2 separate regions of the Homo sapiens genome follow, and region 1 is linked to region 2. The links come from fine-mapping of genetic effects on gene expression. Tissue or cell type: testis. Region 2 holds a variant in brackets; the other region holds the start of a gene. All regions are shown on one strand. Distances are between the middles of the regions.

Evidence for each region. PIP is the estimated chance that this variant, and not a neighbour inherited with it, causes the effect.
Region 1: WAKMAR2 starts here. The variant in region 2 is fine-mapped to the expression of WAKMAR2 in testis (GTEx, PIP above 0.99).

Annotation. Positions count from the first base shown.
Region 1 is chr6:137,863,272-137,871,455 of GRCh38, forward strand. It overlaps WAKMAR2 (wound and keratinocyte migration associated lncRNA 2), which reads right to left and starts at 4,962. Exons shown (of 4, transcript NR_049793.1): 1 at 4,371-4,962; 2 at 3,312-3,613; 3 at 1,888-2,049. It overlaps TNFAIP3 (TNF alpha induced protein 3), which reads left to right and starts at 3,988. Exons shown (of 9, transcript NM_001270508.2): 1 at 3,988-4,271; 2 at 7,942-8,184. The coding sequence starts at 7,957. RefSeq lists enhancers at 3,525-3,664, 7,733-7,852 and silencers at 3,745-3,884, 4,125-4,294, 4,435-4,534.
Region 2 is chr6:137,893,842-137,902,025 of GRCh38, forward strand. No RefSeq gene overlaps it. Among named protein-coding and RNA genes, the nearest start is that of WAKMAR2, 30 kb to the left of the region's middle. The variant C/T (reference allele first, on the strand shown) is at 3,580.

The sequences.
Region 1 (8,184 bases), 31 kb before region 2:
GTCAGCATCGCACGCTTTCAGGCAAAGTGCAACAGAAGGAACTGTACTTGTCATTACACCAACTGCCTCCTTCCCAGTGGAGGGTCTTTGATCCTGGTACTATGACTCACTGGGTCACTAAGGACTTCAGTTGTCCCTCCACCATGGTGGGTCTTGGGTTTCTCCATTCAGTCCAGATAACACATGTAAAGGATCTGAGGTCCCTAGATAAGAAGCAACATTCAGTAGAATTTGGCATTCATAGGATGATGAAATTTATGACATCATTATCCCAGTTCTCACGGTTATAATCCACAGAAAGCTTCTCTTTATTCTCAGAACTAGCCCTTGTAGTGGCCTTGAATGTGCAAACGTTACCCTTTAGTAATGTTTGAGGCAGAATTTGAAAATCTGAAACATGATTCAAAGCTACCCTACAATAACTAAGCTGCCATAGTTACCTAAGGCTGCTTCCCAATATGTTTTCTATGAATCTGCCTTTCCAATAGAGCACAGTGCAGGGAAAAGGGGAGGGGGCAATTGTACAAAAGACACAAAAGGTCCAGTTTTAGTTTGGCCCATGACTGCCATGCCCTGGAATTCTGTACAGTCTCAGAAAGAGAGTGTCACTGATTATTAAAAATACATAATTTCTTCTTTTTTATTTTTTTAATTTTTAGAAACATGGGTCTTACTATGTTGCCCAGGATAGACTCAAACTCCCGGACTCAAAGGACCCTTCCCTCTCAGCCTCCCGAGTAGCTGGGACTGCAGACGCATGCTAATTAACAATCAACAACCAGGGGCCAGGCGCGGTGGCTCACGCCTGTAATCCCAGCACTTTGGGAGGCCAAGGCGGGTGGATCACGAGGTCAGGAGAATCGAGACCATCCTGGCTAACACGGCGAAACCCCGTCTCTACTAAAAATACAAAAAATTAGCCGGGCGTAGTGGCGGGCGCCTGTAGTCCCAGCTACTCGGGAGGCTGAGGCAGGAGAATGGCGTGAACCCGGGAGGCGGAGCTTGCAGTGAGCTGAGATCGCGCCACTGCACTCCAGCCTGGGCGACAGAGCAAGACGACGTCTCAAAAAAAAAAAAAAGAATCAACAACCAATCAACTGTTGCTGATTCTTGATTAAGAAAGGCTCATGAAATATGTTTGAGCTCAGCAGGGTCTCCTCTCACTTGTCACACGTGGTGCTCTCTTTCATCAGGTTCTTCCTGCTCCCCCCATCTGGGCAAGCACATCTTTTTTACTGCATGGTACAGGGATACAGGCTGCAAGCACAGTCTCACGGGAACCGTTTAATTCCAAGAGGTCATGTGTGCTCATTTTACATAGTTCATGACCCATAAACCCCAGCATTGGTGTCAAAATGGCACGTAACTTAGGAACTCTCCAAAAATATTTCACATAATCAGAATTCCTTTTTCATCTAATAAGGAGACATATTTTTTCTCCTAAGTGTCTACTAAATGTTAATAAATATTCTCTTCTTTAAAGAGTTCTGTCCATCTTGACAAGGCCTATAGCTCAAATTAAATCTCCTTCAAGGCTTTTCAGCATTCTATATCTCTTTGGTTTCAACTTATTCAACAAATCTCCCCAAATTGTATTTCTCCTTTTTTTCATAAGAAGGCATTCCATCTATACTCTCTCCTTCTCTTCTTTTCTTTCCTTCTGATTCACCAAGAAAATTGTCATTGGTCTTGTCCATGTGTTACATAATAGAAGGGGAAAAGGCAAGGGTACAGCCCAACACAGCGCTGATTTAGAAGGTGGAAAGGACAGTAAAGACCGCCTGGTGGTGGGAGTGGCAATTCACAAGCCCAGCAGTAGAATCATGGAAAGTGGAGTTCGAACATAATCCAGGGCTATAGACCACTCCTGCATCTGACTGCTATTACCTTGTCACAAATCCTGGCAGGCAAGATGACAAAGCAGTTACATCAGGACAGTTGGCAGTGGCAGGTATGAACGTGGCCCCTCAGGCTTGTCACTCCTCTTTACTGCACTCCCAGTTCATGACACCAGACAGCAAGACATGAGCCAGATAGGGGCAGTGGAAGCTGCAGGAGGATTGAAGTCATGGAGCCAGAGATGAGAGGAAACAGGCCAACTCTGTTTACAAAGGAGCACCAGCAGGAGAGTGGTGTGAGGATTAACATTCCATGCAGGGTCTTTCAGATACATGATCTTCTTCTGCCAGCTCAACTGAAACCCAGGAGGTTTCCTGAAGGTGAAACCAAGACCCTTCTACCTCTGAAGCCGCATTCTGTCTAAGGTCCGTGTTTGGCTGTTTTGAGAGGCTGGGAGACAGGACACCAAAAGAGTACCTGTCTCACAGGATCTTTCCTGAGAGGAATGGTCTAGTAAGACTGGTCATTATGGGCTTTGGAGTAACACAGGCTTAATGCCACTGGCGACTCTGCCCCTTTTGGTTGTGGAAACTGGGCAAATGCCTCAAGCTTCTTAACCTTCATATAAAAAGCATATATAAGCATATAGCAAGTACTTGATAAATGTCATTTTAGACCCTGTCATTTCTGCTAGCCCTGGACTCCAGCAAGGTCCATTTACAATGGATAGCTGACTATCCATTGTTTGAATGTTGATAGCACATTTGTGAACAAGAAGAGAGGACAAATAACAAGAGGTTTGGAACTGGAAGAAATTCCAGCCATCGGTTTTAAAAGACGAGGACCAGTCTTCAGAGAGGCCACTAGTGACACTCTGCTCCAAACTTCTTTTTGCCAAAAAAGTGCCACCCTCCATCCAGCCCCCACCCCCATCTCTGCAAGTCCTTACTGGCGAGAGGAGGATACTTTTCTAATTAAAAACCTGTGATATATGGCCTGACAAGTATTCTTAAATGTAATTAAGGGGACCATAGTACAGAATATTTCCATCCGGTTCTAGTTTAGCCAATCTAGTAAATGATCCAAAGGGTCCCGTGCTTAGAGGGCAGTAAGACAGTAAAAACGCCCTAAGACTCCTCCCTGCACAGCACCTGCACCCCCACTGCCCAGGGGGCTGCATCCATCTCCACATGACTCACCCTCCCTGTGCAACGCATGGGGGTAGGGAGGGAAGCGCCAGTATTATCAGCCATCAGCACCCTGGGGTGAACTGATTATCAGGACAACTAAAAACACACCTAATAAAGCCTTGGAGACACATGGCAAGCACCGTGATGGACTAGAAGCGATTTCTAAGCTGAAATGCTGCTTTGAATGCAATGTCAGCTGGATGCTTGGTGAGCAGAAATAGACAAGGGGAAATGGAGCAAGCGCGGCATAGGGGTGAGTGTTGTTCTGATTCCTAAGTTTACCTAAGACTGGGGCCACGGGGTCGGGTGTCCCCTGGGACCTACGTCTCATGCAGCCTGGGGTCCAGAGCTGGCAGGAACAATGGAGATGGGGACCAAAGGCTGTCACCGCTGCTTTTTCTCGAAATGCCCGCCCGGGTCCTGTCTGGGGCTCCCGCCTACGCGCTCATCACGTGCACAGCCCAAACTTTTCAGAGCCGGCCCGAGGCCTGCGGGCCCGGGCGCCAGGGTGGTTTTTAGGGTTTTCTTTCTTTCTTATTTCCCTTCTTCTTCTCCACAGTTGATGATTTTCTGCAGAAAAACAACTGCGAAAAAGAACCTATTTCATTTCCAGTTCCCATCACCGCGATTTCCACATGGATGTGACGTGACCCCAGCTTCCGAAATGCCCAGGTGACTCACGCGGGGACACCCCGGGGCGGGGCGAGGGAGTTTCTCCGGGCGCCTGCAGGGACCGGGCGGGGCGGGGCAGCGGGGCGGGGCAGGGAAAGGGGGCGGGGCGGGGCCCGCAGGCCCGGTCGGGCGGAGGCCGCGCGCGCCCCTCGCCCCCTGCGCCCTCTGGCGGCCGGCTGGACGCACTTCGCAGCCCGACCCAGAGAGTCACGTGACTTTGGAAAGTCCCGTGGAAATCCCCGGGCCTACAACCCGCATACAACTGAAACGGGGCAAAGCAGACTGCGCAGTCTGCAGTCTTCGTGGCGGGCCAAGCGAGCTTGGAGCCCGCGGGGGCGGAGCGGTGAGAGCGGCCGCCAAGAGAGATCACACCCCCAGCCGACCCTGCCAGCGAGCGAGCCCGACCCCAGGCGTCCATGGAGCGTCGCCTCCGCCCGGTCCCTGCCCCGACCCCCGCCTGCGGCGCGCTCCTGCCTTGACCAGGACTTGGGACTTTGCGAAAGGATCGCGGGGCCCGGAGAGGTAACCGCCGCGCCTCCCGGAGAGGTAACCGCCGCGCCTCCCGGAGAGGTAACCGCCGCGCCTCCCCGTGCCGTCTGCCTCGGGCTCACCGCAGTCAAGGGCTGCGGGTGCATGTTGGGCAGCGACCCCCGGGCTGGCACCGTCTACCTGGCGTTGGTTTTGCAGCGCTCCTGGACTGGGAGTTTGTTGGACGTTTCTGTCTGGGTTTTGAAGTGCTGGGAGTTGAGGTCACTGCTGCAGAGGTTGGAGTGACAGCCCTGGATACCTCCAGCCAGCTGTTCCTTTCAGATAATGCACGGAACTTAAGCTGCAGCTGACTGGTGAAGAGGCGCCCCTCGGGCCCTCCGATCGGGTGGTCGTTGGCGCTTTGCTCCTTTCGTGTCTTTTTTGGAGCCAAGCGTTGCATGCTCATGGCCACGTAGACCTTGCAGAAGCGCTGCGGCTTTTTCCCAAATTGTGCAGGACCAGCCCGACGGGGCGTAGGGTACCGCAGTGGCCGCCAGCCCGGCGGAGGTGGGGGGCTTCAGTCCCAGAGACAGCTTCCCAGACGCTCACGGGTCCTTGCAGGGGGCTGGGGTCCTGGCGCGGGGTTCAGCTTTTCCAGTAGCAGCAGTGTAAGAGAAGTATGCATGTAGACGTGGGTCGCTGGCCCCTGCTCCAGCCCCTACCCCACGGTTAGACTGTCTTTGTCAGCTGGAGTCGTCCCACATCCTGCCACCTGGCCTCTCAGAAAAGCAGTGGCATTAAGTAAGGAAGGAGCTTAACTCTTTTTGAGCCCGCTTTGTTTTCGGTTCTCCTCGCCTCAGATCTTCTTGCCTTGGAAAGCCAGTCTGGTCAAGTGTCTCAGGGTAGCATTTTGGCAGAACCATTGTTAATTAAAGGGACTTCTGGACCGCAACCTTAATGTACCAGATTATTGAGCAGCCAATGAATGCTTCATTCTCATTGTTTAAGGTGCTGCTTTGATTTTTTTTTCAATTCTTTGTACTATTTTTGATTTTTTGGAGAGGCACATCCCCAAATTTGGATGAGGTATTTGTTGATAAATAATTCATCAATTTCCACAATGCAGACAAAAATGTCTGCCCAGAGTGGAAAAATAAAACAAGGGGGAGAAGAGTTTGAGTAACGGAGAAGTTCTGTGGAATCCTAGTGACAAAAGTTGAGAAACTACCTTTAAATAAGACAGTGAGGTAACAAATGTTAAAAAAAAAAAAGTTAAGGGTAATATTGCATTGTTTGCCACTTATAACGTATCTGAAACATTTGTTCTTTAATCTTAAGCGTAGAGTGGTCCAAGACCTGGAAATCTGGGCAGTGGGTTTTGATTTCTAAGGAGGCAGTTTTACAGGCTGTGCAAGGCTAACCCTACCAATGAGATCACACTGGCGTATCCGATATTGACATTTGCATGTCTTGCCTATGGTTTACAGCTCTCACTATTTTAGATCTTTGGTGAAAAATCTTTAGATTCAGAAGAGAAAAATAAAAGAGTCAGGCAAGCAAAAAGAGATAACACCTCATTTGTTTAAAATCTTCCTACTGCCCATCTCTTTCCATCTGATTGTGGCAGGCACTGTAGCCACAGGTTTGGTGTTGTGGGATTGCAAGGGGCAGGTATTGAAAGACCTGGCTCCTAGGCAAAACTTTGCCCCTGAATGGCTGTGGGATCTGAGCAGTACCTGTAACTCCATTGCCTTAGCTGCAGACTAAGGTGGTAGTGTAATTTCAGGGAAGGGAATAAGGTCATCTTTGACTTTTAGTCCCATCATCAAGCATGGTGATTGGCCTTCAGTAGGTGGTCAGGTAGTGCTTGTTGGGTGGATGGGTGGATGGATGGATAGATGGATGGATGGATGGATGGATGGATGGATGGATGGATGGACGGACGGACGGACGGACGGATAGATGATATTGTGAAAGAGACTTTTGCTGTGCCACAAAGGAAAGGTATATGTGTTATTTTTATCCTGCTATGATTTTGCCCAATTCCACCTGTAGAGGACGTCTGACATCAAAAGAGAGCACCATCTGATCCAGAGAATGACTCCCACTATGCCTTTCCCAGCAATCAGATTAAGAATCCCAATCTAAAACTATCACCAGAAAACTCCTCAGGAGAAACCATGGGTCATCTAGTCCAACCTCTCTCCTTTGAGTGGGCCACAAGAATTATCTCAACACCTTATCAATGGTGTTGAGAGTCTAGACCCACACAGAAGTAGCTACCCTAAAATCTAGGTTTCTTCTCCTCCCTCTTCCATAGGTTTAACATTTTTATTAACTGGAAAGTTGCCCTGGCAAATAAGATGTTGCAGGAATGGAATTAACAATCACTGTGAAATTTCCTAGGGAATGTCTTTGTGCTCTGAAAACTTCTTCATCTTCTTGGAAATTAGGAAGTGTGGCCAGACACCCTACTAAGGGCTAGTAAATCACAGCTGGCTTTTTACAGTGTTCCACACTGGAGAGATCCTACATCATGTTAATTTGCATCATCCTGCGCTGTTGGCATGGGTTGTAGATGCTGGTCTTTGCCACCTTTCCTCCTTCATTTGCCAGAGTGGCCTCCTGGTGGAAACTTCTTTCCTTGTCTACTTCTAGATTTTCATTCCTTCTACTAGTTGATTATGCTTAAAGATTTCAGGGTGAAAAGCCAGGCAGACTTGCCTCTGTGTTGGTACCTGGAGGGTGATGATAAAATTTCATTGGCAGTTGAGTTAAAATGATTGAGCTCCAATATCTGTTCTTAGAAGTATAGAATTTATTGTTCTATTATTATTTTGCGGTTTTTCATTTTTTGTTTTCGTAGAGACCTAGGTCTCACCGTGTTGCCCAGGCTAGTCTCAAACTCCTGAGCTTAAGTGATCCTCCTCCCTCGACCTCCCAAAGTGCCAGGATTAAAGGCATGAGCCACCATGCCTAGCCTATTGTTAGTCTGTTTCTTATTCTGATATGAAGTCCGGTGCGGAGGTTCTGAAGGAATGCTGACTGCTCTTAAAATTGCAAAGCATCTTGCTGGAAATGGACTTTTTTATTGATTAGAAAACATTCGGTTTTAACTCTTTATAAACATCAGAATAAACTTCATGATTAAACACTTTATAAATACTTCTCTTTGGGGCTAAAGAGGAAACACCAACCAGCAGCCTAAGTGACAGCATAAAATTGCAAGATTTTTCATAAAGTATTTTACTGTCCTTCCAGCATAGGGAGGGAGTGATAACTCAAGAGTTTGCCCAAGAGCAGGAGTGCTTGGTGGTGGTCTGAGGGGAGGAGCTACAGACTTGTCAGGGCTACTTTGAGCCCTTAACTGGCATCCAGTACTCCCCAAATCCAGTGCTGTTCAGGGTGGCCTCAGAATGAAACGGGAGCTTAAGTTGGTTTTGAGGAGCAGTACCTGTTGCTGACAGACAGGGTTGGCTCCCTGACAAACATTACTGAAAACACGGGTTATTCCCCTCCTCCTCAGTACCCACTCTCTGCCTTCCTTCTCTTGTTTAGGCTAATCTTTTAAAGTGATGTAACTTAAAACAGTCCAGTGTGAGTTAATCTCTGGGGCCAGCTAGTATCCCGGGAGTAGAGGTGCTAAGATCTTTTGCCTACAGATCAGGGTAATGACAAGATCAAACACTGGGGTTTCCTGCAGGCAGCTATAGAGGAGTCGTATTAAAGTCAGGCTAATAGAATGGCTTTTTTTTTTTCCTTTCCTTTTCAGGTGTTGGAGAGCACAATGGCTGAACAAGTCCTTCCTCAGGCTTTGTATTTGAGCAATATGCGGAAAGCTGTGAAGATACGGGAGAGAACTCCAGAAGACATTTTTAAACCTACTAATGGGATCATTCATCATTTTAAAACCATGCACCGATACACACTGGAAATGTTCAGAACTTGCCAGTTTTGTCCTCAGTTTCGGGAGATCATCCACAAAGCCCTCATCGACAGAAACATCCAGGCCACC
Region 2 (8,184 bases):
TCTTTATAACTTCCCAACTAATTGACATCAAAGAAGATAGGAATTTACTAGCTGAGTTTCAACAAAAACTTCATACTTCATAACTGACAATGAAATGTGATTCACCATGAATTAGCAGGCACACCCAGTGATTTTTTTCTACATATCTTCTATTTTTTTTTTCCATTTTCTTGAGGTGTCTTTTTCAGCCCTGATAGTCATTATCATCAAAGATTACAATAAAATGAACTTAGAATCATTTTGGAGTGGCTTTCTCACAAAGTGATAGACATGTTTTTTTTTTCAATAAAGCATATTAACTAATTTTTTACCACTTCTTATTGAGGTCAAAATATACTTTTACTATTAATAAAAATGATTTTTTAAAAATATTACCTACTTCATCTGTATCTCATTTTAAAATTCCTCTATTTTGTGATTTTTAATGTTTTAAATAATAGTGCATTATAGTTGATTTAAAATAACTCATATTTTGTAAATTTATGCTCAAAAAATGTTTTTAAAGATGGTATGAAAGCAAAAGGATTTGGGGCTGGGCGTGGTGGTTCACAGGAGGCTGAGGTGCGCAGATCACTTAAGGCCAAGAGTCAAAAACGAACCTGGCCACCATGACAAAACCCTGTCTCTACTAAAAATACAAAAATTAGCCAGGTTTGGTGGTGGTGAGCGCCTGTAATTCCAGCTACTCAGGAGGCTGAGGCAGGAGAATCACTTCAACCTGAGAGGCAGAGGCTGCAGTGAGCCAAGATGGCGCCACTGCACTCAAGCCTGGGTGACAGAGACTCCGCCTCAAAAAAACAAACAAAAAAAGGATTTGGAGTCCAATTTCCAACATGACATGCAATGCTTTTTAGAATAAACCGAGTTGAGTATTCATTCTTGCCTTCTGTCACTACATGTATACATATACATATTACGGCTTCCTAGTCTCTCTAGAAAAGGACACCTTTCTGGTCTTAGGACTCCTTTACAGCCTTAACAATTATTCAAGACCCCAGAGAGCTTTTGTTTATATGTGTTTTTATTTGTTTATATTTACCATTTTAGAAATTAAAACTGAGAAAAATGTCACAGCCAGAATTCACAAGTAAACACACCATTAGCTTCCAGAATGCTGACGTCATGACATGTCATGGAGCCTCCGGAAAACTCCATTGTATACTCCCTATGCCCTTTTTGCCATCCTCTCTTCTCTCCCTTCATCAGAACATGGTAGAGCTTGTGCCTTCTGCCGTGCATTCTCCCAGACATCATGGAAAGAACATGACATTTTGTAAAAGAAATATTTAGGTTCAAATGCCAGCTCCATTACCCATGAGTTATTCAGCCTTCAGCAAGTTGCCTCATATCTCTGAGTCGCAGTTTGCTCATCTGTAAAATGCTCATTAAATGCTTTCAAAAATATATCAGGGAACTTTTCCCCTCACACTATCAGATAATGCTCTTTTTATGGATAACCCAGCTAAGGGTTCTCAACCCTGGGGACATAGTAGAATCACCCAGAGGTCTTTTAAGTGATGCCAATGCACAGAGATTCCTAGCTGTAATTGGCTTGTGATGGCTGTCTCGGGTATTTTATTTTTTTAAGTACCAGTGAATCTAATATGCAGCCAGAGTTTGGAATTGCTAGTAGCCAAAAGAGTGCTGCTTTCAAAGAGCAATTGAGGGAAAGCGAATAAAATTACAATGTATACCTGGGGCATTACAAGAGGGCAGGCACCTTCTTCTGCAGGTGACCAGCTTGTCATGTGAACATGCACTAGGTGGTATTTATTACCATTGTGAATCCATTTTAGTATAGAAGTGCCATAAAAACTCAGTGTCCCAGAGACAATATCAGATCAGATCAGATATTGATCAGAGATATGCTGCTACCGGTATTGATTATTTTCATAACATCCGCTAATTACCAAAAAGGTACAAACACTGTACTCTCCAGTCAGTGACACCCCTCCTTAGAGGCACACTCCATAGCAATGCTTATTATCAGGGTGCTTGATAAGCCTGGAGTCAGATTGAGGGGAGCTAGTGACTGTCTGTGTGATTGAAGCATCCTTCTTCATATTTGGATATATCCGTCTCCATGTCCCAATGGAGTGAGTCTTCTCTCCTTACGTCTCTCCTTACTCAGCAATAGTCCTTCAGGATACTGTCTCCGCATACATGGCTTGATGAGTCCCACCAATGGCTCTGCCTTTGAAACCCTGCCCGTTCTTTGTGTCACCACCCCCACCTTCTGATTGGCCTACTTTCCTCTAATCCTGGTCAACACTTTCAATTTTAAGCCATAGTCTGTCTCTTCTGGCGACTTCATACATATCTGAACTGGTTTATTACTTAACTCCCAGAGGAAAATCTATTTCCAAGGTATTACCTCCAGTTACTATCTAAAACCTTGAGTTAGAACTCAGGAATCTGGGAAATCCTTAGAGTTTGTTGGAGTAAGATTTGACATGTAGAGTTTCAATTATTATTGGAATACTTTATTATAGTAAGAAGGACATCCAGCTGCTGTCAGACTACACAGGAATCAAAACAAGAGGAGATATGATTTACAGCCTGAAGAAGCACAGCAAACAAGCAGGAATTTTCTAATATTAAGAAATTTGATGGCTGGGCGCGGTGGCTCATTCCTGTAATCCCAGCACCAAGGCCAAGGCGGGCGGATCATTTGCGATCAGGAGTTCGAGACCAGCCTGGCCAACATGGTGAAACCCCAACTCTACTAAAAATACAAAAATAAGCTGGGCATGGTGGCAGACGCCTATAATCCCAGCTACTAGGGAGGCTGAGGCAGGCAAAAAGCTTGAACCCAGGAGGCAGAGGTTGCAGTGAGTCATGATCACGCCCCTGCACTCCAGCCTGGGCAACAAGAATGAGACCCTGTCTCAAAAAAAAAAAAAAAAAAAAAAAAAAAGCTTGGATTCCTAATATGAAATGACTAAGGAAAGAAGTAGAATAAATCTCTCTTGCACTGTCCTATCCACTCATCCCCTGCCTTTAAAACAGCACTTATGAGTGCTCTATCATCTTCCTAGTCCTGTGATTCAGTAAACTTCTGCTCTGGTTTTGGGGACCTGGACTTCATTCAAAGACTTGCTGGTGAAATCCTCCAGGTCCTGGCTGTTCCATGCCCCTTCACACCAACAGTTTCATGAAGGTGAAATTAATTAACGTATTGGTTGAATACTGAACTAGTTTACCGAATATGCTTCTCTGTGAATTCCAGTTTTATAGATTTTCCAGTAGAATAATGAGTCAGAATATAGGAAGTAGTTAGTACTCAACACTTTTCATGATCATCTTTAGAAAACATAACTTTTTAAATGACTTAAATTTAAGTTTAGAAAACTGAAAAGTCTGGTGGTAGTTTTATCCATTCTTGAGGGTTTAAAGACATCAACAAGTTTGTGGCTCTTAAAGTAGATACTTTAAAGTAAGAACAGTTATCACAGGTATTAAAAAGGAGCAGTCTTTTTTTTTTTTGAGGCGGAGTTTCACTCTTGTTACCCAGGCTGGAATGCAGTGGCGCGATCTCGGCTCACTGCAACCTCCGCCTCCTGGGTTCAAGCAATTCTC[C/T]TGCCTCAGCCTCCTGAGTAGCTGGGATTACAGGCATGTGCCACCACGCCCGGCTAATTTTTGTATTTTCAGTAGAGACGGGGTTTCTCCATGTTGGTCAGGCTGGTCTCGAACTCCCGACCTCAGGTGATCCGCCCACCTCGGCCTCCCAAAGTGCTGGGATTACAGGCGTGAGCCACCAGGCCTGGCCCATTTTATTTATTTATTTGTTTATTTATTTATTTTGGCAGTGAAAAAAAAAAAACTAAACAGGAGTAGTTTCAAAGAGTTGAGGGGAAATTGTTGACACAGAGGCCTCTGGCTCCACAAGAGGCTCAATCCCGTTGGCCCAGCACAAGCTACACACGTCCTCAGAGGCAGCAAAATCATTTGTGGGTCTGTGAAAAATGTACTGTAATTATTTAACCACTGAGTTTAGAGACATATTGCTTAAACCAACTTTATGCTTCTTTTGTTATCTATGTAGGATTTTGTATTTTTAAGAAAAGAACAGCTTGATATTTCATGTCTGAACAAAACACACGAATGTCTCTTCCAATCTAAAAGTAAATGAAAGATAATACCTGATTGTCAGAAAATTTGTTAATGATGTTATAATAATATAGCATGCATATATTCCAAGCCATCAGTAAAAGTTAGAAGATTATTCATTATTTAATATAAATGAAAATGAAATGAAATGTGCAGAAAAAAATTTTAATGAAAAAATTTTAATTAACCAAAAAAAGAGAAGAAGGTTAGAGAGTGTTCATTTGGAACCTCTTAAATCTGTCTAGTACACCATTGCCCATGCATCAGATTACTCCTCACCTGGTCCACCCCAAAAGCTCCATAACTAGTACTCTTACTTTCAGTCATAAGCCCTCCAAACCACTTGCCAAAGTGCAGCCAGTGGGATCTTTCTAAATATCCATGTAATTACGTTCTCCTCCTGGGGTCCATGGAACACCCTAGATCTGAAGGATTTCAGGGACAAAGACTTGAATGAAGTCCAGGTCTCTAAACTCTGAGCAGAATTCCACTGACCATAGGACTTGTTTTTAATGGCCCTCAATAGATTTCCAAAGTCCAGGTTCCTTAATGTGGCTCACAAGGCCCTTTGGTGATATGTGGCCCATGGCTCTCTGCCTCCATTCATACCCACAGAGAATCCAGGAATGCCCTGAGTCCTCAATCCAGAGCCTGCTTCTGCCATTCCCACCACCTGCACCACCTTTATTCCCTAGCCAAGCCCTATGCATCCTTCATGACTCAACTCTAGAGTCCTTTAATTCAAGAGGCACGTGGTCTCCCACTCTCCAATACAATTTAGCTGCTTTTCCTAGGTACTTCCTTGAAACCTGTGTACTTTCTGTCACGATTTTATAATTATTGATTAATGTTTATCATACATGTGAATTTCTCAAAGTAGAGGAACTTGATTTTTCTGTGTCTCAAATGCTTAACCCTACATCTGACACAGTATGGATTTTCTCTAAAAGTAAATGTTGAGATGATGTTTGAGATGTAAGATTTTTTTAGGGATCAGAATTTGTGTTTTGCCCAGTGTCTGCCCTCTATACCTCCAACCATGGGCTGAAAAAATGTTTAAATATGAGTAGTTTCTCTTGTGATGATCACCACTAATATACCTCAATTAGAAGGCATGTCACCATTGAATCAAATATTAATGAAGCATGTCAATCTGAATTTGCATGATGTACAAATATTTTTGTGATTTTTTTAGAAGTCCAGCTTTGTTATAAAGAGGAGGTTTTTGCATAGGATTTCTTCATCAAGGTAGTGCCTTAAACGCTAATAGCTAGTTGACCCATACAAAACAACTCTAGAATTAAAGAGTGACATTTTGAAGATTTCCTTTTTTCCCTTGCTCAGGATATTCGGTTCTTCGTTTGCTCCAAAATATCTCACCCTCCTCCCACCCAAATTTATTTTTTATGTTCCCTTTTAACAACATTTATTGAGTGCCTCATATATTGCAAGCATTGGAGATGCAAAAGTAAATAGGACACATCCATCCCTTGAAGAGCTCCCATTCAGAGAAACAAAAGTAAATGTAGCTGGGCAGGGGGTTCACGCCTGTAATATTAGCACTTTGGGAGGCCAAGGTGGGAGGATCACGTGAAATTAGGAGTTCGAGACCAGCCTGACGAACATGGTAAAACCCAGTCTCTACTAAAAATACAAAACTTAGCCAGGTGTGGTGGTGCAGGCCTGTAATTCCAGCTACTCAGGAGGCTGAGGCACCAGAATCTCTTGAACCGAAGAGGCGGAGGCTGCAGTGAACTGAGATTGTGCCACTGCACTCCACCCTCGGTGACACAGGCAGACTCTGTCTCAAAAAAAAAATAATAATAAAGTAAATGTAAAAAAGGTAAAATCATGGGGAAAATATGATCATCAGTTGAAACTGGACTGGTGGAAAACAATACCATGTTAGAAATTCTAAGCAGGAAAGGATTTTTTATAGGAAATGTGATGCTAAGATAACTTCTCTTGCTGGGCAAGAGAAGCTCAGGATAAATTGCTGATGATTTTCAAAAGTATGAAAATTCAGGAATTACATTTGATGACATTTTCTTCCTGCCTACATCCACTACCTACAGCTGTCATGAGAAGATAATGGTTTCTCCTTCTCCTTTGCTTTCCAGATCTCTGGTGATTTTTTCTTGGAGGTGAGCCCTAAACAAGAACTCTGCTAGAAACACAGGTCAGGCAATGTTGTTTCCAGGCTTTCAGCCTCAACAGAGAAAGGGAAGCTGGGAAGGGCTCTTGAAGGTGGTGGCAACTAACACTGCCATGTACTATGTATATTGGGGTGGGTGACTTCTCTACCCTGAAGTAGCCAAGCCGACTTTCAGTCTGCAGAAAGGCTATAGGATGTGTATTCCAAAAAACTAGAAGAGATTTGAAATGTTCCTAGCACAAAGAAATGATAACTATGTGAGGTCACAGATATCTTAATTATTCTGACTGGATCACTACACATCGTACGCATGTATCAAAATATCACACGTATCACATATAGGCATACAATTATGTTTCAATATAACAATTAAATTCTTTTAAAAAAGAGATCCTATACAGAGCTTTCCCTTTGATAGGTCTATGCCTAGCTAAGAAACATATTCTCACATTGCTCAAAGGTCCTTTACATCTACTGATTTTTTTTTTTTTTTTTTGAGACAAAGTCCCACTCTGTCGCCCAGGCTGGAGTGTGGTGGTATGATCTCAGCTCACTGTAACCTCTGCCTCCTGGGTTCAAGCAATTCTCCTGTCTCAGCCTCCCAAGTAGCTGGGATTACAGGCATATGCCACCACGGCTAGCTAATTTTTTGTATTTTGGGTACAGAGTGGTCTCAAACTCCTGACCTCAAGTAATCTGTCTGCCTTGGCCTCCCAAAGTGCTGGGATTATAGGCATGAGCCACCATGCTTGGCCTTACATCTACTGACTTTTATCCTTCTAACTACATAGGATGTAATATTTATGTGTTTTGAGTAATTATTTGGGGGTTAAAGTGTCGTCCTAGGAGGTCTAACACATCAATCCTTCATACCAAAGAGTTGACTGCTTCCTGAAATGAATTATAAGGTCTGTTCAAAGTGAAGGTTAGCCACCCCACCCCCCAGGGTAAAGAACATTAAAATGAGAGATAAGGTCTGAGTTCACATCCTAAAAAGGCCATTTATTAAACATAAATACGTCATTAGTCTTCTTAAAGACAGTTTCCTCTTTAGTGAAACAGAGATTTAATAAGCCTCCCCTCCTATCTCAAAGAGTTATTTTAAGATTCAAAACTAGAATGGGAAAATATATATAAAGATATTTTTGTAAATCATAAATGTTATAAAGGTCAGAACCCAAGAAGGCTTACCTGGAAAGTTTGCAGGATCTTGGCAAGGGAGACATGAGGACAGGAAAAGAAGCCAGAATTACTGGGGACTAACCTTTCTGTAGAACTGGGACCTGAGATGGATAGCTAGATTTTCAAGTTATAGTGTCAAAAGGGATATAGTAAGCTTGACACGGTATCAGTATCTAAGAGGTCCAATCTGGGGCAAAACAGACTGTCCAGCCAATGGTGAATTTTGGAATCAGGCATTCGGCAGGGTTGACTGAGATCTAGTTGTTTGGATTGATATCTCAACAGCAGATCAAAGTCCAGACAGTAATATCCCCCACATAGTAGCTTGGCATGGAGTAGGCAATCAATATATTTTTATTGACTTGACCTACTGATAAACAGAATAAAGGAACACATATCTGGCAATAAGATATCATGTTGTCAAGACCCCAGAGAACCTGAGTGCAGTTCATGAGCTGGCTCCAGGCCCAGATAGGGATTTCAGTGTTAACCAGGGCAAGCTGCCTAGTGACATGGACAGAGCAAGCTCAGTGAAGGCCAGGAGGAAGAGAAAGGATACAGCTCAAGGGGCTCAAAGACGTTGAAGCTCACCCCAGACGCAATGGCCTTGGATCCAGCACAAATTCAAAATTGTACCTATGAGTAGGGTTACAGCATCTGATGTACTTCAAGGCTTGGTCAGGCTAGCTGCGTCAGGACCAGGATGGAGCTAAGAATGAAGGTGGCGGGTGCCCAAA